Linked DNA regions of Homo sapiens: region 1 is linked to region 2. The links come from fine-mapping of genetic effects on gene expression. Tissue or cell type: putamen. Region 2 holds a variant in brackets; the other region holds the start of a gene. All regions are shown on one strand. Distances are from middle to middle.

The links. PIP is the estimated chance that this variant, and not a neighbour inherited with it, causes the effect.
Region 1: SEPTIN10 starts here. The variant in region 2 is fine-mapped to the expression of SEPTIN10 in putamen (GTEx, PIP 0.98).

Annotation. Positions count from the first base shown.
Region 1 is chr2:109,609,713-109,620,581 of GRCh38, forward strand. It overlaps SEPTIN10 (septin 10), which reads right to left and starts at 4,254. Exons shown (of 11, transcript NM_144710.5): 1 at 4,086-4,254. The coding sequence starts at 4,115. It overlaps SOWAHC (sosondowah ankyrin repeat domain family member C), which reads left to right and starts at 4,652. Exons shown (of 1, transcript NM_023016.4): 1 at 4,652-9,278. The coding sequence starts at 4,778. The coding sequence ends at 6,355. It also overlaps a transcript of RANBP2 not described here. RefSeq lists an enhancer at 3,144-4,053 and silencers at 3,906-3,995, 4,026-4,275, 4,536-4,705.
Region 2 is chr2:109,665,119-109,675,987 of GRCh38, forward strand. It overlaps a transcript of RANBP2 not described here and the pseudogene BMS1P19. Among named protein-coding and RNA genes, the nearest start is that of SOWAHC, 56 kb to the left of the region's middle. RefSeq lists an enhancer at 5,986-6,486. The variant C/T (reference allele first, on the strand shown) is at 5,323.

The DNA of each region.
Region 1 (10,869 bases), 55 kb before region 2:
CCTCACTGAAGAAAAACTGAGAAGGAATGAGAAAAAAAGTTCAGAAGCATTGTAGCTAAAACAGGAAATGACAAATGCGGACAGGAATTGCAAAGATTTGGTCACCACTTAAAAGGTAAGGATAACTGAAGAAGTGGAAAATTATGGCTGTGTTTCTCGGGAGATGAAAAGGCAGTCAGTGGACTGTACTCAACACTATTTCAAGATCCACTATCTCAGTCAACAATAACTAATTATACAGCCAGGATCTCCTGAATCATAAAATGATGCAATTCCTAATAAGGAGCATGGTGGAGATAATGGCAGGGACAATATGACACAGAGCAGATCTCACAATCACTAGCTGTGATTCCTTAAGCGAGACACTAAACTTCCCTGAGGTGTTTTTTTTTTTTTAGACAGAGTCTCACTCTGTCGCCAGGCTGGAGTGCAGTGGCGCGATCTCAGCTTACTGCAACCTCCACCTCTCAGGTTCAAGTGATCCTCCTGCCTCAGCCTCCCAAGTAGTTGGGACTACAGGCGCATGCCACCAAGCCCAGCTAATTTCCTGTATTTTTAGCAGAGATGGGGTTTTACGGTGTTGGCCAGGATGGTCTCAATCTCTTGACCTCATGATCCATCCATCTGGGCCTCCCAAAGTGCTGGGATTACAGGTGTGAGCCACTGCGCCCAGCCACTTCCCTGAATTTTAATATCCTCTTCTATTAAAAAAAAGGTCTGGGCCGGGCATGGTGGCTCACGCCTGTAATCCCAACACTTCGGGAGACTGAGACGGGTGGATCACCTGAGGTTGGGAGTTCAAGACCAGCTTGACCAACATGGAGAAACCCTGTGTCTACTAAAAATACAAAAAATTAGCCGGGCGTGGTGGCACATGCCTGTAATCCCAACTACTCAGGAGGCTGGGGTAGGAGAATCGCTTGAACCAGGGAGGTGGAGGCTGCGGTGAGCTGAGATCATGCTATTGAACTCCAGCCTGGGTGACAAAGCGACATTCCGTCTTCAAAAAAAAAGAGAGAAATGAAGAGAAATACTATGTACATGAGTTAGAAGACTCAACATAGTAAAGCTATCAATTCTCCCTAAATCGATATAAACATTTAATGTAATTCCTCTCGAATCCCAGCAAAATTATTTGTAAATATAGATAAGACGATTCTAAAACTTACACAGAGAGGCACAGAACTAGAATAGCTAAAAATCTGGGGGAGAGAAGAATAAAGTGGGAGAAATCAGTCTACCTTATTTCAGACTTACACAGCTACAGGAATCAAGACTGCGTGCTAACGGAGAACCCAGAAACAGACTGAAACAGACCCACACAAATATGCTCAACTGACTTTTGACAAAAGTGCATCAACAACTCAATAATGGAAAGGGAGCCTATTCAACAAATGGTGCTGGAGCAACTGGACATCCATAGGCCAAAAAATGGCCCTCAACTTAAGTCTGACACCTAACAGAAAAATTAACTCAAAATGGGTCATAACATAAATGTAAAACATAAACTATAAAACTTTTAGGAAAAAAATAAGAGAAAATCTTTGGGATCTAAGGTTAGGCAAAGAGTTCTTAAACTTGACACCAAAAGCACAATCCATAAAAGGAAATAATGATAAATTTCAACAAAACTGAAAACTTTTGCTTTGCAAAAGACCCTGTTAGAAGATGAAAAGATAAACTACAGACTGAAAGAGAACATTTTCAAATCACATATCTGAGAAAGGACTGGAATCTAGTATACCTAAAAAACTTTAAACCCAACAGAAAAAAAAAATCTAACTAGAAAATAGGCAACATGTTGGGAGGCTGAGACGGGAGGATCGCTTGAGCCCAGGAGTTTGAGACCAGCCTGGGCAACATGGTCACACCCCTGCCTCTACAAAAAATACAAAAATTTAGCCGGCTGTGGTGGTGCACACCTATAGTCCTAGCTACTTGGGGTGGCTGAGGCAGGAGGATCGCTTGAGCCCAGGAGATTGAGGCTGAGGTTGAAGTGAGCCATCTTGGCACCACTGCACTCTAGCCTGGGTGACAATACGAGAAATCCAAGTTAAAATCACCATGAGGTGTCACTATATACCTATAAGAATGGCTAAATTAAAAATAAGGACACCACCAAATGCTGGTAAGGATGTGCAGAAACTGGACCTCTCATACTTTCCTGGTAGGGATGCAAAATAATACAGCCATTCTGAGAAAGTCTGGCAGTTTCTTACAAAACTAAGCATGCAACTACCATATGACCCAACAATTGTATTCCTGGGCATCTATCCCAAAGAACTGAAGACTTATGCTTACATTATGAGTTACTGTACATGAATGTTTATAGCAGCTTTATTGCCAATAGCCAACAACTGAAAACAACCTAGATATCCTTCAAACTGTGGCACAATCATACCATGGAATACTACCCCAGCAAACTGCAGATATATGCAACAACCTGGATGAATCTCCAGAACTTTGCTGAGTTGAAAAAAAAAAAATCCAATCTCAAAAGGTTACTAACTGGGTGATTCCATTATATAAGTCTTGGAATGACAAAATTATAAGAATAAAAACGAATCACTGATTGTCTGGGGTTAAGAAGGAGGCAGGGCAGGAAAGAAGTGTGTGTGGTTATAAAAAGGCATTAAGGGATCCTCCTGGTCCTGGGAACATCCTTTATCTTCACTGTATCAATCAATGACAATATGCTGGTTGTGATATCGTACTATGGGTTTGCCAGATCTTATTGTGGAAAGGTGGATAAAGGGTACAGGGTTCTCACTATACTGTATTATTTCTTACAACTGCATATTAATCTACAATTAACGCAAAATACAGTTTAATTCGAAAATAAGTAAAGTTAGCCTCAAAGCAAATTAAGTACAATTAAAAATAAATCTAACATCAGCTAAATGAAGTGTTCTCTTCTGCTCAAGCTTGTTTGGATACGTAATCTATGAATCAAAGAATTTATAAAACACATTTTCCTCACCAGGACCCCTCAATTTTCCCTCACTCACACATGCACACAAACACAGCAACTGAGACAAGGGGGTCCAGACAGAAAATTTGAGATTTTTAAAAAATACGCGATAGAATGAAAAGAGACCTGGGCTGAATCAGGGAGAAAAATCTTTGTCCAGGTTCTATAAAACAAACCAACGGTGTCACTTTGGACGGATCCTCTAATCTCTCAGCCTGCAATCTGAACTGTTTCTACAATTTAAACTTCTCATGTAGGAGGTTGCTTAGTAGAGTGGTTCTCAAACTTTTTGGTCTCCAGCCTCCAAAGAGCTTTTGTTTACACAGATGAAAACCACCAATGTTTACTATCAAAAATTAAAAGGGAGAATTTGTTTTTAAGAATACACAGGCATCGGGCCTCCAAACGGCGGTGAGATCACTCCATACCATGTAGCCTTTGGAAAACTCGATGTACACGACCTTGGTACTATTAACGAAAATAGTTGTAACCACACTTGGAAAACCGCTGGCTTACTAACAAGCGAGATAAATCTACAAAAGTAACTGGAAAGGTTCAAAACAGTGAACAAACGCGTTCTTTTAGAGTACAAAAGAGTCAAGGCGGGAAAAAAACGGTTTAAAATCCCAATGGAGGAAAACTTGGACGACCACACCATCGGATAAAACGGGAGAGCTTTTGAAAAGCCAGGGGAGCCGGGCTTTCTCCCGGCGGCAGGGAGGCTCGGAAGTGCTCACGGCTGCAAAAGATGACCGCTATTCAATCAGTCCGCACTGCGCCTTCAACTCCGTTATAGCCGTAAGAGACCCACAAACACCGCTGTGGATGTAACTTTTGGCAAAGACCGGGAAGTCGTTCAAGAACTCTCCCACCGTCCCGACGCTGGCGCCGCGCCCCGCGAACCGGGGTCCGGCCGCGCCCAGGCTCCGCAGAGGCTCCTCTCCCGCCCCAGGCGCCCGGCCGCCGCGGAAGCCGGGGAGCACTGGGCGGGCGGGGCCGGAGGGGGCGCGGGTCACAATCCCGGGCCGGACCAGGGGGCCGGTGGGTCGAGGGCGGGAAGTCCCGCGGGGGCCGGGGAGCGCGGGGCTGGGGCCCCGGCGTCGGCGGGACTCACCAGGTGCCGCGCCACCTCGGAGGAGGCCATGGTCGCGGGCAGGGGCACGGTGAAGCGGCTGTATCAGCCCGGCCCCGAGCGGCTGGTCCCGGCGACGGCGGCGGGAAGGCCGGAGGGCAGAAGCAACGGGCGGGGCGCGAGGCTAGGCTGCCTCCGCGACGGGGAAGGGACAGGGGCGGGGCCGAGCTGGAGGCCTCCGGGGGCGGGGTTGGGGCGGACGCCCTGTGGTGCGCGCTGAGCGTTTTGCCTGCGCCAAGCGAGCCCCTCACAGGAGCTACCCTCGACGCCTGAGGACTGAGCGTCAGCGTTGGGGCGGGCTGAAGGAGAGCTGGGACTCCAGGAAGACGGCGCGAGGAATGCAGGCGGGAACTGCGGAGCAGTGATTGCGGCCCTCGCGAGGCCGGAAGTGGGCGGGCCTTGAGGCGAGGCCGCCCTAGGTAGGTGTGGCCGAGACAGCGGGGAGCGGAAGTGGGCGTGGCCTGGTGGCGTGGGCGCGGGGCGGGGGTGCGGGGGGCGTGTCCGCCCGGGCGCGGCCCAGTGAGGCGGTGGCCGAGTCCTCTGGCCTCAGACGCGTAGGCTGGCAGCCCGCTGAGCCCGCCAGACTCCGCCGCCGTCGGGAGCCGGCCGCTGGGAGCCCGTCGCTATGGGACCGCGCTGAGCCGCCCGCTGGCGGGGGAGCAGCGCGGTCGAGGATGGAGGGGCCGGCAGAGTGGGGCCCCGAGGCGGCGCTGGGCCCCGAGGCGGTGCTGCGCTTCCTGGCGGAGCGCGGGGGCCGGGCCCTGCACGCCGAGCTGGTGCAGCACTTCAGGGGCGCCCTAGGCGGCGAACCGGAGCAGCGCGCCCGCGCCCGCGCGCACTTCAAGGAGCTGGTGAACGCCGTGGCCACTGTGCGCGTCGATCCCGCCGACGGCGCCAAGTACGTGCACCTCAAGAAGAGGTTCTGTGAAGGGCCGTCCGAGCCCTCCGGGGACCCGCCGCGAATCCAGGTGACCGCCGAGCCCGAGGCCCCCGACGGCCCTGCCGGGCCCGAGGCGCGCGATCGGCTCCCCGACGCGGCGGCCCCGGAGTCGCTCCCTGGACAGGGCCGCGAGCTGGGCGAGGGAGAGCCCCCCGCCCCCGCGCACTGGCCGCCCCTGAGCGCCGGGGCTCGCAGGAAGAACTCGCGGCGCGACGTGCAGCCCCTACCGCGGACTCCAGCCCCGGGGCCCAGCGAGGACCTGGAGCTCCCGCCACATGGCTGCGAGGAGGCGGACAGGGGCAGCTCCCTTGTGGGGGCTACCGCACAGAGGCCGGCCCGCCAGAACCTCCGTGACCTGGTGATGGGCAGCTCCCCGCAGCTGAAGAGGAGCGTGTGTCCCGGGGGCAGCAGCCCGGGCAGCTCCTCCGGGGGAGGACGCGGCAGAGGCGGGGGCGACTCAGACAGCGCATCGGTGGCCTCGTCGTCCGCGGAGGAGGAGAGCAGCGGCGGAGGCTCCGTGACGCTGGACCCCCTGGAGCACGCGTGGATGCTCTCTGCCTCCGATGGCAAGTGGGACAGCCTGGAGGGCTTGCTCACCTGCGAGCCCGGCCTGCTGGTCAAGCGGGACTTCATTACCGGCTTCACTTGCCTGCACTGGGCCGCCAAGCACGGCAGGCAGGAGCTTCTGGCCATGCTAGTCAACTTCGCCAACAAACACCAGCTGCCGGTGAACATCGACGCCAGGACGAGCGGGGGTTACACCGCCCTGCACTTGGCAGCCATGCACGGCCACGTGGAGGTGGTGAAGCTGCTGGTGGGGGCCTACGACGCCGATGTGGACATCAGGGACTACAGTGGGAAAAAGGCCTCCCAGTACCTGAGTCGGAGCATCGCCGAGGAGATCAAGAACCTGGTGGGAGCCCTGGACGAGGGTGACGGGGAAAGCGCCGCGGGTAGCGGCGGCGGGCGCTGGAGGCTTTCAAAGGTGCTTCCCTCGCATCTCATCACCTACAAACTCTCACACGCCCTAGAAGATGGAGGGGACCATCACCACCATCACCACTCGGCTGAGGGGTGGGTCGGAGGCAAAGCCAAGGATCCAGGGCGCAAAGCCTCGGGCAGCTCTAGTGGACGTATAAAACCCAGACTCAACAAAATCCGATTCAGAACCCAGATCGTCCACACCACACCCTCTTTCAGGGACCCAGAGCAGCCGCTGGAGGGCAGGGGGGAGGAGGGAGTGGGGGAGGAACGACCTGTTAAAGGCCACTCGCCCTTCACATTGAGACCAAAGTCCAATGTATTTGGGTAAAAATTGCTTCTTTTAGAAAATGCAAAGGTTTATTTGTCTTAATAAATTGAATACTAGGTGTTGTAAGGAAGTGAGACCAGAAGGACAAGCTAAATTATGCATTCTTACTTGAGGGATCGGAATGGATGGGGCGGAGTTCTCTTCAGGCTAGCCTTCTGGGAAAAGTGGATGTCTTTTTCAGAGATTCATCATACCTTGACCTGTACCTCTTCTCTGCCCTCCACTTCCCTGCCCTGGAGTCCGTTTCTGGAGACTAGAAATGTATCTAAATTGGGGGAACAGAATGAATGAATTAATGAATGAGAGTTCCTTTGCTTTAACCATTCCTGGATGCCTGCAAAGTAAGGAATAATGCAGTTTTTATGTATCTGATTTTATAAGGGGTTACTCTTTCAAGAGTAACAAAAAAATGCAAACTGTAATGAAACTACATTGTATTTCTAAGTGTGAAAACGACAGGCTGCCCCGTTTTTACTAATTGCATTTGCATTTTAAGGTACTACTGAAGGTCAGATCAAAGTTGAAATGCAAAAATACTAATTAGAGAATAATGTGAATAAAATGGGAATCTTCTTGGTATTTTATGTGTATTGTAAGTAGCAGTTAAATTATTTTTTTAAAAGCAATTTCAGTTTTAATCACTGAACAAAAGAAACAGGCAACATTCACTTCTGTAGTATGGTTTCCACCTATCTCTAACACCACTATTAAGGTACACCAGTGTTAAGGTACATTAATAACTACACAAAATTTTATTTAAAGAGAACACTTAGCAGCCTATGATAGTTTTCAATAAAATGTTGCCTCTCTTTCGGATTCTCACTAACTTTTGTTACTATTCTAAAAGTTTGAATTTGCTGGGGTGTTTATTCTGAGGATTATTTAACCATTGTTCTATTTGGCATAACCCTATTTAATGGTGCTTAGAGCTGAATTACCTACAGAAACTGTTTCTGGTTTAAATAATTAGCACAAATTGGCCTAAGTATTCATGAGCCCATGTTTCTGTGAAGTAATTATTAAACCAACTTAATGATTCTTATGTAAGGTACACTTTTTATTTTAATACATTGGTAGTCTCTATGACTTGTAGCAATGTTTTACAAATGTTTAAAATGCTAAACTTAATTTTCCAAGCTTTTCTTGACAATTAGATACCTATCCTGTAGTTACTGAAAATCTGGGTAGTAAATCTACCCAATTAAAATGGCACTTTATAAAAGGGAATAGAGAAGAGATGGGACTATTTCTATATTTAAATGCTGCTGGCTATTCCTTTGTATATAAATGAAAAATACCATTCATTAAAATTAAGTACTCGTTTAAGTATGGTTCTTAATTACATTTCATTCATTTATATTAGAGTAAATGGCTTCATAACTACTTTAAAATTTAACCCACAAGCATATTAAATCTGTTTGTTATAAGATTGGAAACAATTTTTGAGAGGGACTAATTTAAACAAGTCCTCCTTTAGTCTTTTGGGTCGCGTAGTTGCTGAAACCTAAGTACCTGCAGCCTACAGGATAAGGAAGTTCACAGCCTGCGGGGTGAATGAACCCATGTGTGAACTGCACAGAGCAATTCATAGAAAATGCATAGAAATTTGTAACACTTTGGTCACATCTGTCTCTAGATGGTCATTGAATTTGTTTAAAGATGGATGAAAGGCCAGGCATGGTGGCTCATGCCTGTAATCCCAGCACTTTGGGAGGCCGAGGCAGGTGGATCACTTGAGGCCAGGAGTTTGAAACCAGCCTGGCCAACATGGTGAAAACCTGTCTCTACTAAAAATACAAAAATTAGCCGAGCGTGGTGGTGCGTGCCTGTAGTCCCAGCTACTTAGGAGGCTGAGGCATGAGAATCACTTAAACCTGAGAGGTGGAGGTTGCAGTTGAGCCAAGATCACGACACTGCACTCCAGCCTGGGCAACGGAGACTCTGTCTCAAAAAAAAAAAAAAAAAAGATGAATGAAAATATGAAATATATAAACTAGTATCCATTTATTTGCATTTATTGTGGGATTTCAGATATGAACGGTGTAAATTTGAGAAGCACTTATGCATACATGTGGGTGAAAAACCAATCTAATTTTGTATAAATAAAAACAGGCTCCTGGAAGGTGAAAAGTAGTCATTTGTTCTAAATCTATACATATTACTTGTATCTAGTGCAGAATAAGCTATAACATCCCATTGAGGAATCTTAAATTTCATAGACATGTAAAGCTGAAGTAACTCTAAAGAGCAGATGCTTCAGAACCATCAGAAGGTTCTGGTCAACAGTCAGTATTATCTCTTAAATGTATATGTTGGTCACTAATTGCACAAAATCTATAATTTGCCAGGGCTTTAGAGATTGAGTCAATATGTCATTTACCATGGTTTTCCCACTGAAGGCTTTAACTTTTCTGATAAAATAATATTTTAAATTTTCAAAAACCCATTCCTGAGGAGAACTACTTCTAGCATTCCTTTTCATGATGTGCTTTTGTGCAGTAAGTAGCATTTTCGGCTACTTAACTTTACATTCCTCTTATTTTTCAGTTTCCAGTCAAGATTATAAAAAGCAAATGATTGATATAATTTGATATTCATAGAGTTGTGCCTACCTTTAATGGAAAAATACATGTCAGATACTTAGATGTTTATTGATATGAGACTATGTGGTTAAAAAACCCAAGTATGTCCATGTGTTTCTTATAAGGTACACTTGAAACTAGTGAGTGTTTGTCACATTTCACTTTCATGGTATATAAAATGCAGTTTGCATATATAACTTGAATATCTGGTACTAGTTTTTTCACGCCTGCAATCTTGGAGTCTAGGTTGCCTTGTCTCTCCTATTTTTAAATAAGTGAAATTTGGGAGATTGTAAAATCTGTAAAGTTTGTTTTGTGAAAATAAAATGTTCACAGTAGAATTTTTCTCTGAATTGTCTAAGTTTCTGTCGTCCTTTAGACTTTTTACATATACTGTGTTTTACAGTTCACAAAATGCTTTTTGAAGTTTCAGTTTATTTGACCCTTTTCCTATCCCTTAAGATTATGGGCCATATATTGTTGACTTACAGATAAGAAAATAGAGGTTAATGGTTGTTCAGGGTCACACAGTAAAAAGCTGTTAGTAAGATTATAAGAGTCAGGGCTTTCCCACAACGTTATCTTTTCTGCACATTGAATTGCCACATTTTTAGCAAAACTGCTGTAGTTTGGCACCAGTGATGGAGGAATCAACTTGGAGAGAAGGTAATACCTCCACCACTACCTAAAAAAAAGCTGTATGGGTTTTGCACACACCATCTGCCATAAACCTGCCCTACCCAGGGCTGACTTCAAGACAGGTGTAGGAATACCGTTTTTCATTTTTCAGCCTCTGTGAAGCATTGAGAGTTAATTACCTCATCAAGGCTTCCTGTGATCTGTATTTTTAGCAAAATTCAACTCTGTTGAATGGCAAAGGGATGTGGTACTCCTTTGGTGTAATCGCCCACTATTGCTCTATCCGGGAGATCCCACTGTGATGGCTGCTGGGGTTATTCTTGTTTTATGATAACCCATAAAATATTTTTCAGGATCACTGAAAGACTAGATAAGTAGTTTGTTTTTCTAGAATAACTTCTTTCCTTAGAAGTACATGTCTTAAAAGGATTTATTAACCAGTTCACTTAAAGATATTTTTGAAATTTTCCTAGTAAAAATTATTTTTATTTTGCTAAGTAAATAGCATTATTTGGAGTTTCTTACATGATTAATTCCAGGATTAAATACTTGGAATTTGCTGTAAACCAGTATTCCTTCAATGATCACCCAAGTCTTCATAAATCACTGAATATTAGAGGGTTGGAAGATGACTCTACAGAAACTTGTTTCTCAAGATACAGAAGTCATGTGGTTCACATAACTACCTGCTTTTTCCATGAAGAACACTATACTTTTTTTCTCAATCTTCTCTTTAAATGTCAGTTTCATCTCAGTAAGTAGCTTTCCTATTCTGTTAACTAATAGCCTATTTTTCCACATCGATGCATTGGTAAGGAATGTGTGACAAATGTTCTACCCTTGCACAGTGCCTGGCATGTTGAAGGTACTCAGTAAGGGTCTTTTAATGGAAAACATTAAATATTTTATAATGTTACATAATATGGATAATTCAATTACATGCATTCATGCTATGTGAATAGTTTTTTTATATAACATGGCTCTTAAATACCAGCCTATCAGTTCATCTGCAGCTCAGCCAAAAGAACAGCAAGTTATTCCAATCCTGAAGATAAAATCAGCTTTATTAGAACTGTACTTCGTGAGCGATTTAAGAGATTTTCAAGAGTAAATTTGATTATAAGAAAATTTTGCTGGGCGTGGTGGCTCACGCATGTAATCCCAGCACTTTGGGAGGCCGAGGCAGGAGCATCGCCTGAGGTCAGGAGTTCAAGACCAGCCTGGCCAACATGGTGAAACCCAGTCTCTACAAAAAATACACAAATTAGCTGAGCATGGTGGTGCATGCCTGTA
Region 2 (10,869 bases):
GGAACAAATTGAAATTGCAAATGCAATAATTATCAGAAAATGTCTTTCTTTGCTTGTGCGTGATGTGGTGGCAGCAGGTGCGGCTTTGAGATGCAGAATGATGCTGGTGAGTTCGTGGACCTGTACGTGCCGTGGAAATGGTCCGATAGCAACTGCATCATTGATGCCAAGGACCACGAATCCATCCAGAAGAATGGGACCAAGGTTGATAATGTCGCAAGCAGGTTTTTTTTTTTTTTTTTTGAAACAGTTTCGCTCTCGTTGCCCAGGCTGGAGGGGAATGGTGGGATCTTGGCTCACCACAACCTCCACCTCTGGGTTCAAGTGATTCTCCTGCCTCAACCTCCCAAGTAGCTGGGATTACAGGCACATGCCATGACGCCCAGCTAATTTTGTATTTTTAGTAGAGACAGGGTTTCTCCATGTTGGTCAGGCTTGTCTCGAACTCCTGACCTCAGGTGATCTGCCCGCCTCAGCTTTCCAAAGTGCTGGGATAGCAGGCATGAGCCACCGCAACTGGCCTGATCGCAGGCAGGTTTAACAGCCAGTTTAAAATGTATGCTACCTGCGGGGCCATTCGCAGGATGGGTGAGTCACATGACTCCATTTTCCAATTGGCCAATGCCAACAGATTGTATTAAAGAACTTTTGACTGGAGAGAATCATGGATGTCAAATATTTGTCATAAATAAATAGTAAGAACCTAAGAAAGGCCGGGTGCAGTGGCTCATGCCTGCTATCCCAGCACTTTGGAAGGCCGAGGAAGGCAGATCACCTGAAGTCAGGAGTTCAAGACCAGCCTGGCCAACATGGAGAAACCCTGTCTCTACTAAAAATACAAAATTAGCTGGGTGTGGTGGTGGGTGCCTGTAATCCCAGCTACTCAGGAGGCTGAGGCAGGAGAATTGCTTGAACCTGGGAAGCGGAGGTTGCAGTGAGCCAAGATCATGCCATTGCACTCCAGCCTGGCAAAAGAGACAGATTCTGTCACAAAACAAAACAAAACAAAAAACTAAAAAAAAAAAAAAAATTACTGCAAAATAAATACATCTATTTCTGCTAGAAACAGAAGTCTCACAGGCATTGCTTTTTCTATAAAATAGTTAATGAAATTTTGGAGCACCTTACATGAATTTGTATTAAAACATACTTAGGATGTGGTGCCCATTGTCCAGCGTGTGGTGCCACTTTTTTTGTGAGAAGGAGATTTCTCTGAATTCTTTAATTCTGAAGCAATATGTGTTCCTAAACAGATAATATGGAATATTATTGTGAATTATGTCCTTAATGATAAATTTAAGGGCATAGGAGAAATATTATCTGTATAGTTGACGTTGGTAAAAAGACTAGAGCACAACTTTCAACTTACTAACAACGTTTCTGAGGCAGTTAAGAATTTTGATTATCTTAATTCATGAAACATAAAACTTAAATTAACCTGAAAATTCAATGTACAGTGTTTGCCCTTGTCTGTTGTTCAAATCTCACTTTTTAAAGCCAGGCTCCTATCAGAAACAGAATAAAGTTAAAGCTCTTAATTAGAACCAGAGATGAAGACATGTTGGCTGCTAATTGGAGGAAAAACTATGTCCTTAAATCCAGAGAGGTTGACAGTCAAGATGAAAAGCTAGATTATTATACTCATTAGGCTGAAAAAAATAATCACCTCAGTGGCCCAAAGACAAGGTCTGAATTTAACATGAGAGGAAACTGGATCTATGCATCTGCTGTGTTGAGACCTCATAGTTTTATACCATAGAAATGGGCACGGTTGGTTTTCTGGAAGAGTTGCAAGTATAAGCTATTTGTATTTGTTCCTCTGCCTAGAATTGTGGGTGTCCACTGAGGCAGTCCATATTTGATGGATGACTGAGTCCTGATTTCTGAGAGTCAGCTGACTCTAGTGTTACTGATCTTATGGAAAAGTCAATCCAGTGAGAAGGTTTTGTGGGTTTCAAATACACATAGATCATAATCTAAATATATCCCAGTTTTTGTTTTATTTTACTTTTCAGCCAATCCTGAGGCATAAGAAACATTTTAATTCACTGCACATTCCAAAAGCCTTGCAGAAAGCCTTGCCATTTAAGAACAAGCCCAAGACCCAAGCAAACGCAGGCAAGGTGCTGAAGGACAGGCAGAGACCAACCATCATAAGCAAGCCTCATGAAAGGAAGGTCCTGTGGCCAATTGACTGCCATTTAGAGAGGAAAATAACACTCTTGGCAGCACACTTTGCATTTCTACTGTAACTCAGTTTTGATCAGGAGGGGATGAGACCAGAGTTATTCACGGCACTAGAACTATAGGTTAGAGGCAGGGCTGGAGTCTATTTCCAGTCCTTTGCTTGGCCGTGTTCTGCCCTGTGCATTTTAATGTGGAGTCATAGGCATGGCTGGGGAGCCCTTCCTCCTGGTTAGTGGCACACAGAGCCCATAGAATGATGAACAGAGGTGGTTTTGCGGTAAAGGTAAATGTGCTCACACCTGTATCTCCATGCCAACAATGATTTCCTAGCTCGGGATGCATTTTCAAGGCGTTAACATTCATTTGGATCCTGGATTGCCTCTATCTTGGATTCCATCAGCTGACATGCCTGGATGGGAGTGTGCGGTGTCTGTGAGAGTATTCTGATGCTCGCCAGGTTTTGTCCCTGTCAGATCCTTGCACTGCTGGATGCTCTGAGTACAGTGTGCAGTCAGAGGGTGCAGAAGGCCAAGAAGCAGCAGCACCTGCAGAATAAAGAGCATTTTAAAGCACTCCTCAAGCAGAAGGAGAAGCTGAAGCAGCAAGAGGACCTCAGAAGAAGCTCTTCTGAATTCAGGGTCAGAGGGAAAGAAGAAGCCAGAAATCCAGTCTGAAGAGGGCTGAGGAGCAATTGCAGTGAGCCTTTGGAATGGGAAGGCTGGCCATAGATCTGCAGAAATGGATGATTTCAAACACCACGGTGCTTGTGAATAACAAGTCAGGGGGCGAGAGCCCAAGAGATGTTCCTGTTGAACACATCATACAGACTGTGCCTTTGAGAGGAGAAATGAAGCCTGCAATTGCAGGACCCGGGTTCATTTTCAGCATCTGGAGCTGTCAAGATTTAAAGTGATGTAAACTATGGTTATGTGGATTCTCTTACTTTTTTCTGCCTGCCTCAGTTTAATTATTTTGTACTATAAAAATATAATTAAAACATTTTCCTGTTAGTTTTGGCTTAGTGGGTTTCATTAGGGGTGAATGTTAGTGGATTGTGGATAATTGTTTATCCTAGAAAAATACAATAAAATCATCACCTCAAAGCATATATACTTGGGAAGCTGAAAACTACAAAGTATTCTCAAGTCAATACATCACAGAAGGCATGATACCTATATAAAGAAACAACAATGAAAATCCCACAGGCAACACTTGTGCGATGCTGCTGAGGGACTACCAGAGAAAGTGGGACTCTAGGCTGTGCCTTCAGTGTGCACATATGAGAAATGAAGATGGAATGGATGTGTCACATTCTAATGCAATCTAAGAAAAGAGAAGAAAGCAACCATGTACATACAGAAAGCAAAATGAAGGAAATGATCCAATTTAAAGATAATTTGATGACTATAGGCCAGTTTTGCTTATCAACATTACAAACAATATTGAAAATAAATGTCAAAGCAAATGAAACCAAATAGATATTTGACACTGGGAGATACAAAATGAGAGCAGGCACATGGAACAATTGGAACCCTCCTAGCCCACTGCTAGGACTATAAATCAGAAAGGGCCATTATAAACACTTCTTAGCCAATGTTCTTGCATTCATGAATGGGAAGGATAAAGCTGGAGTTATCATACTACTTGACTTCAAAATGTACTAGGAAGCTGCAGTAACCAAATCTGCATGACCATGTCCTGAAAACAGACAAATAGATCAATGAAAGGGAATAGAGGACCCAGATATACATGCACAGATTTACAGCTAACTCATCTTTGACAAAGACACCAAGAAAATACATACAATGGGGAAACGTCATGCACAAGAAGGAGACTAGACTCCTATCTCTCCTCATACATGAAAATAAAATCAAATGGATTAAACACTTATGCTGAAGACCAGAAACCATGAAACTACTAGAATAAAAACATTGTGGAAACACTCCAAGACACTGGTCTAGGCAAAAGTTTTTGGTTTAAGACTTCAAAATCACAGGCGACCAAAGCAAAAACAAACAAATGAAATTCTGTCATCCTAAAAAGCTTTCAGCACAGCAAAAGAAACAACAAAGAAAGGAGACGACACACAGGAGAAACAATATTTTCAAACTCCCCACCCCTGAAGGGATTCATAACCAGAATATATAATAAGCTCAAACAACTCAATACCAAAAAACCTCCAGAAAACCAAAAAGAATCTGATTTAAAAATGAACAGAAGATCTGAATAAATATTTTTTGAGAGAAGACACATGGAACTACTGGAACTCTCTTAGCCCCTGCTAGAACTAGAATTCAGAACGGCCACTATGAACACCTCTCAGGCAATGTTCCTACATTCATGAATGAGAAAATACATCTAAACCAGAGAAGGCCTCAAGATAACCTCCAAGGTTCTGACAACCCTCACCGCCTCTGGCTCTTTTACCGGCTCCCTGGCCAGCAGCCTAGGCCTGGACCCCTCCCTCAGGGCCACAGGAGGTGAGAACCTTGATAGTGCACCCAACCTGCTCCCCGCCATGGGCAGCACATCCACAGGTAGCACCCCTAACCAGTCGCCCCACCCCCCGTGCCCTGGATAGCACCCCCAACCCACTCTATGCTGCAGGCATCAGGTGCCCCCAAGCGACCCCCCACCACGGGCAGTGCAGCCTCTGATAGTGCACCTACCCCACCACCTTTCTACCACCCTGGCCATGCTGCAGTCTCCGTCACAGCCAGCAACTGCAGTGAGGCGAGCCACGATGCCACAGGCTACAGCCTCCAGGGTGCGGCAGACGGTTCCTCCTCTTCCTCCTCTAAGCCAGGCACAGAGTAGCTGGGCTACAGCTGCAGAAGAGCCTGGAATGGTGGGAAGCCCCCTTAGCATCCTTCACATTCTGAAAATATGCAAATGAGGTTCCTGGACTACATGTTCTGATTGGGTGAGACAAAAACCTCTAGGCCTATGCCCCATGGTGGGGGACAGGTTAGGGATGCTACTGGGGGCTATACTGCCTGTGGCAGAGTGGGGGTGGGGGTGGGGGTTGGTTGGGGGGTGCTATTGGGGGCCAGACTGCCCCTGGCGGGGGGCTGGTTGGGGATACTATCTGGGGTTGCAGTACCCACAGCAGCTCATCGGGGAGTGGATTGGGTG[C/T]GATAACTTGGGCACAACTGCCCGAGGCAGATGTTGGGCTGGGGGCACTATTGGGGGCTATGAGGATTAAGGGCACTATCAGGGACTGCACTGCCAGTGGCGGGTGGCAGAGGCAGCAGTGACAGCAGTGGCCTCCAAGGCAGGGGCTGTTCTCCTCTCCCCAGACTCCAAACTCTAGAGGCTGACCTCGTTCTGCTGCTGCTGCTCGAAGCCAGTGGGGTGCATAGCATTTCCATGGGAATCCTGAGCATGGCAGGGCCCCCACACCTGCTGTGGGTCCAGGGCCTGTGCCCTCTTCCTCTGTGTTGCAGAGACAGCCTGGGATCTCTGGGCATGGAGTTGGGGGAATCACAAGGGGACAGGGCCCTGTGGGTGGAGGCATCAGGAATGGCAACCACACTTCGGTTTGGGGGTGGCTGGGTCTGAGTTTCTGCTGCTCCTGCTCCCCAAGGAGTGCAGCCTCAGTGGGCCCAGTGGTTCCTGTGGCTTGGGGAGCTGGGCACTATGGTGTCTCCAATCCCCACCCCAGGCCCCAGTGCCTGGCCAGCTTGGGCCAAAAGGAGAGGCTGGACTTCGGAGGGTGGGTGTGAGTGCCTTCGCTGAAACTGGCCCCTGCCACCCAGTGGACAGCATGACAAGGTGATGCTGTAACGCTACCACTTCCTGCAACCTGGTCTAGGTTTTTCTGGCTTTGCCCACACTGCTGCTTCCTACCAGGAGAAGGAGGATCCACCTGCTGGATATTGGAGGCTGGAGGCTGGAGCCTGTGGTCCTGCAGCTTGCCTCGCTGTGAGTTGGTGGTGGTGACAGAGACTGTAGCATGCCAGAGTGGTAGGAGGTGGCCAGCTGCAGCCAGGGCAGGGGCAGGGCTGTGGCAGTAGCCATGTGGTAGGAGCCTTGTAGGGAGGGCCGGTGCATTGAGGGTGACAGCAGTGGTGGTTGTATTGGCATCAGTGCCAGTGGTGGCAGCAGCAGCAAGTCTGGGGGCTGGGAAGGGGGAGTAGGAGCTTCAGGGTTCGGCTGGCCTGGCATAGGTAGGAAGCTGTGGTTGCTGCACCATGGGCCTCATTGGAGGTGCAGCCAGGGCAAGGAGGAGTCCTCCCCCTTCTCCTGGAGAATCTGGAGGGTGCCCTCCTCCTGCTGGTGCCTGAACCAGGCATGAGTGGAGCATTATCTCACTCTTAGCAAAATTTAAGGGGTGACAATTTAGGGGGTGTATCTTTTTTATTGTTTTTTGTTGATGGTCTTGGACTTTTTCAAATTTCATGAATCAGGAAGGGGAAAAAAGGTATGGCACCTGAGCCAGCCATGAGTGTAGCATTATCTCACTCTTAATGAAATTTAAGGGGTGTCTATCTTTTTGCTTGTTTTTTTGTTGATGGTCTTGGACTTTTTCAAATTTCATGAATCAGGAAGGGGAAAAAAGGTATCTTATAGGCCATTTGATTCCCACACCTGTTTTTCCTACTTTCTTCCAGTCTGTTTTTTCTTTTTCTCATCACCATCATCTAGTTCCTCTTCATTCGCTTATGCTCCTGCTTCTATTTCTTGTTTCTATACTTTCTCCTCCTCCTCCTCGTCTTTTGTTTTCTTTTTCCCAAGCAATGACCTTAACAAGCAACAAACCAAAACTGAGTTAAAAATAAACTACTCACCAGTGTGTTGTATTTTTAAAATATTGGTCCATTACCATGTTTTAGAGATGAGGAAAAAAATTAGTTGCATAATTATTTAGTTCCTTGAATAGCTATGCTTTCCTGTTAATGCATTGTAAGTTGTTATTCAAGGAATCAAAAAATGAAGCATCAAATAAAATATTGGTAGCAAACAGCCATTTCATCTCTCTCACATATTAGTCTGGAGATATGCAAGAGGCAGGGTGGGTAATAAGTTCCACTTTATGAGATCATTGAGTGAACCATATACCCTTCATTTTATTTCTCTGCCACCATTTTCAAGAGTATTGCCATCTGCATGAGCAAATCTGGTTCATCACCACATCTTTGCAACAAGAAAAGGAAGCGGAGGATTATGTATATAATTGTTTTAAGGCCAAGGTTAATAACCAAAAACAAGGCTTTAGTAACTGTTGTCTTTAAGAACCTGCAGTGTTGGGCCCTCTTTTATTCCTAGTGTTACGTATTATTACCTTCGGTATGAACTGTTTTTTTAAGGGATTTCTCTAGAAGTTTATGCATTTTATTGACTACTTTAAAGAAACAAGTAATCTATATTGTATCATTTCTTTCAAGACTACAGAAATTTATAAGGCCGGTAATTTTGACACTTTTAAATTATTTTAAGGTTATGACATGTAAATACTGTTGATATATGTACAAATATGCATAAGTATCAATAGATAGCTTATTTTATAGAGATAGTGTCTAAATTTTTGTCCAGAGTAGATTGGTTGCAGTTTCTTAGGTGTGTTTCTCAATACATTGCCTCAATGTTTTAAAGCATATAGAAATTTGAATACTGCTAAACCTCATTTAGTCCTTTGTTTATAGGTTGTTTGATATTACTAAAGACATCACAGCCCCTCTTGAGATTCAGAAATAATAAAACTTGAGATATATAGAGTTAGAATCCAACAAATTCAGAGGAAAATTGTTCAATTACGTAGCTGTAGAGCAGGAATGAAATCCAGGTTCTAAGCTCTAAGGGGGCCGTGAGCTACCATACAGGTGCCTCGGTGACTGGGCATAGAGTCAGCAGAATTACGGGATGGTTAAGAGTGAGCTGTGGAGCCTAACTCTATGTGAACATGAATTTTTAAACTGTATGGTGCCTCAGTTTATCCATCTTTACAATGGGGACAGTACTAAGTGTTTCTTTTTCTTCCCAGTTGACTGAATTATTTCCGTAGTAGGTCTTGTTGCCAATCTTTTTGCCCACATGAGAGGACCTAAGGTAATTTCTGACAGCCTGGGATGCTTTGGGAAAAACAGAAGGTGCCACAGACCCCATTTTGGGAGAAACCTCTGTTTTTCTCATGGAACCCCAAGAGCTGTAAACAGACAGGTCCCTCTCAAAATCTAAGGCTCTGCTCTGTTTTGCCTTGCTTTACCTGACCTTTTTGATTTGGGTGGGCATCAGAAATTAGTAGGGGAGAGACAGCTAAAGAAAGTTGTGGATGTGGGCTGGGTGCAGTGGCTCATGCCTGTAGTCCCAGCACTTTGGGAGGCCAAGGCAGGTGGATCACCTGAGGTCAGGAGTTCGAGACGAGCCTGGCCAACATGGCAAAACCCCATCTCTACTAAAAATACAAAAATTAGCTGGGCAAGGTGGTGGTTGGAAGAAGGAGAAAGAGAGAGGGAGGGGAGGTGGGGAGGGGAACAAACAGTTTTCCCAGATAGCTATACCCATTTACCCTGTTATCAACAATGTATGAGAGCTCCAGGGATCTCCATTGTCTATATTTGATATTTTCAGGTTTTTTCCCCCTTCATTTTGGCTATTCTGAGTGTGATGCCATAGCTTCTAGTGGTTTTAATTTGCATTTTTCTGAAGACTAATGAGGTTGAGCACCTTTCCATGTATTTATTGGGCAGCTGAGATACTATCTGTTTTGTGAAGTGCCTGTTCAAGTCTTTCACCCAATTTATTTCTACTGGGTAGGTTCACCTTTTTCTCATTGGTTTGTTAGTATTATGTTGCAAATACCTTTCACATCCTATTGGCCTCCCCAGCACTCCTTTAATGTTGTTTCTTGATGCCAGCTTCTTATTTTATGCTTAGTGCCTACATCCTATTTTAAACAATAAATGTTGAAGATAATTGTGCTTGAATTTAACAACCCCCCCCCAAAATGAAGTAAAATGGTAGAAACTGCTGAATTTCAGAAAAATATTTCCTCATCACAAAATATACTAGCGGTCCCAGGTACTTGGGAGGGTGAGGCATGAAGATCGCTTGAGCTCAGTAGTTCATGACCGGCCCGGGAAACATGGCAAGACCTTGTGTCTCCAAAAAAAAAAAAAAAAAAAAAAAATTAACCGAGCATGATGGCATGTACCTGTAGTCCCAGCTACTTGGGAGGCTGAGGCGGGATTGCTTGAGCCCAGAAGGTTGTGAGGCTGTAGTGAGCTATGATTGCACTGCTGCACTCCAGCCTTGGCGACAGAATGAGACCCCATGTCAAAACAACAAAAACAAGAAAAAAGAAAAAAAATATTAGTTTCTAAAATAACCTGCTAAAATTAAGGAAAGGGTTTATGAAAAATATTAATAAGTAGTAATGATTTTATGTGTTTCAATTACAGGCAGTATCTACTAACTCCTTGTTATGAATAAGGAAATTGACATTCTTACATTTCCTCTTCCCTCCTCTCCTCAGCCCCCTGAGTTTGCTAGCTTTCTCCTGTCAAGATTTACATTTTATTCTGAAACCATAATTTCTTCCATAGTGTAGCTTTAACTATTTGCTTACATGGAGTCATCTCTCTTTCCAGTCTTTTCCCCATGGCTTCTCCCTCACTTCATGTCTTATTTTGCTTCATCTCTTAGTTGGCCAGACTTCATTTTCAGCTACTTTTTTTCTTTTAGAGACAGGGTTTCTCTCTGTCACCGAGGCTGGAGTGCAATGGTGCAATCATAGCTCACTGCAGCTTTGAACTCCTGGACTCAAGGATCCTCCCACCTCAGCCTCCCAGTAAGCTCGACCACAGGCATGTGCCACCATGCCCAGCTAATTTTGTATTTTTACTTTTTGTAGAGACAGGATCTCACTATGTTCAACTACATTTTTAAAGGGCCCTGGGTGCTGTGTCCCTCTGTCTGATCTTGAAGAATGTTTGTCTATCACCGTTATACTCGAAGGACAGCTTGGCAAAGTGCAAAGTTCTCAGACCAGGCTCACAGGCAAGTTCTTCCTGGTATACTAACAGCACCACTTTCTGAATCGAATCCGCAGAGGCAGAGGGCAAACCCTTAGCAGAGATGGAAACTATGGCAACTGGCCAGGTGCGGTGGCTCATGCTTGTAATCCCAGCACTTTGGGAGGCTGAGGCAAGTGGATGGTCTGAGGTCAGGAGTTGGAGACCAGCCTGGCCAACATAGTGAAACCCCGTCTCTACTAAAAGTACAAAAATTAGCTGGGTGTGGTAGCAGGCGCCTGTAATCCCAGCTACTTGGGAGGCTGAGGCAGGAGAATCTCTTGAACCCAGGAGGCGGAGGTTGCAGTGAGCTGAGATCCCACCATTGCACTCCAGCCTGGGCAATAAGAGTGAAACTCTGTCTCAAAAAATAAGAAAAAAGCAAAAGACAAAGAAAAAAAGAAACCGTGGCAACCTCAGTTGTAGCCCAGGCCTCCTTCCTTCCTTTGCCTTTCTCGTCCTGCCACTCTGCTGAGGGTGGGTCTGTTTGACAACTGTGGAGCAGAACAACTCCAGGCGGCCCCGGCCCTAAAGCACACTCCTGTCCCCACCCCAGGGTGTGTCTGGGAGGGCCCAGAGAGCTGTTGTGAGGTTCCACCTCGAAATGGACTGTTTGGTTCCTGTAAGAACAGAGGGAGCACGTGGATCAGTGAGAGCACCATAGCCAGTG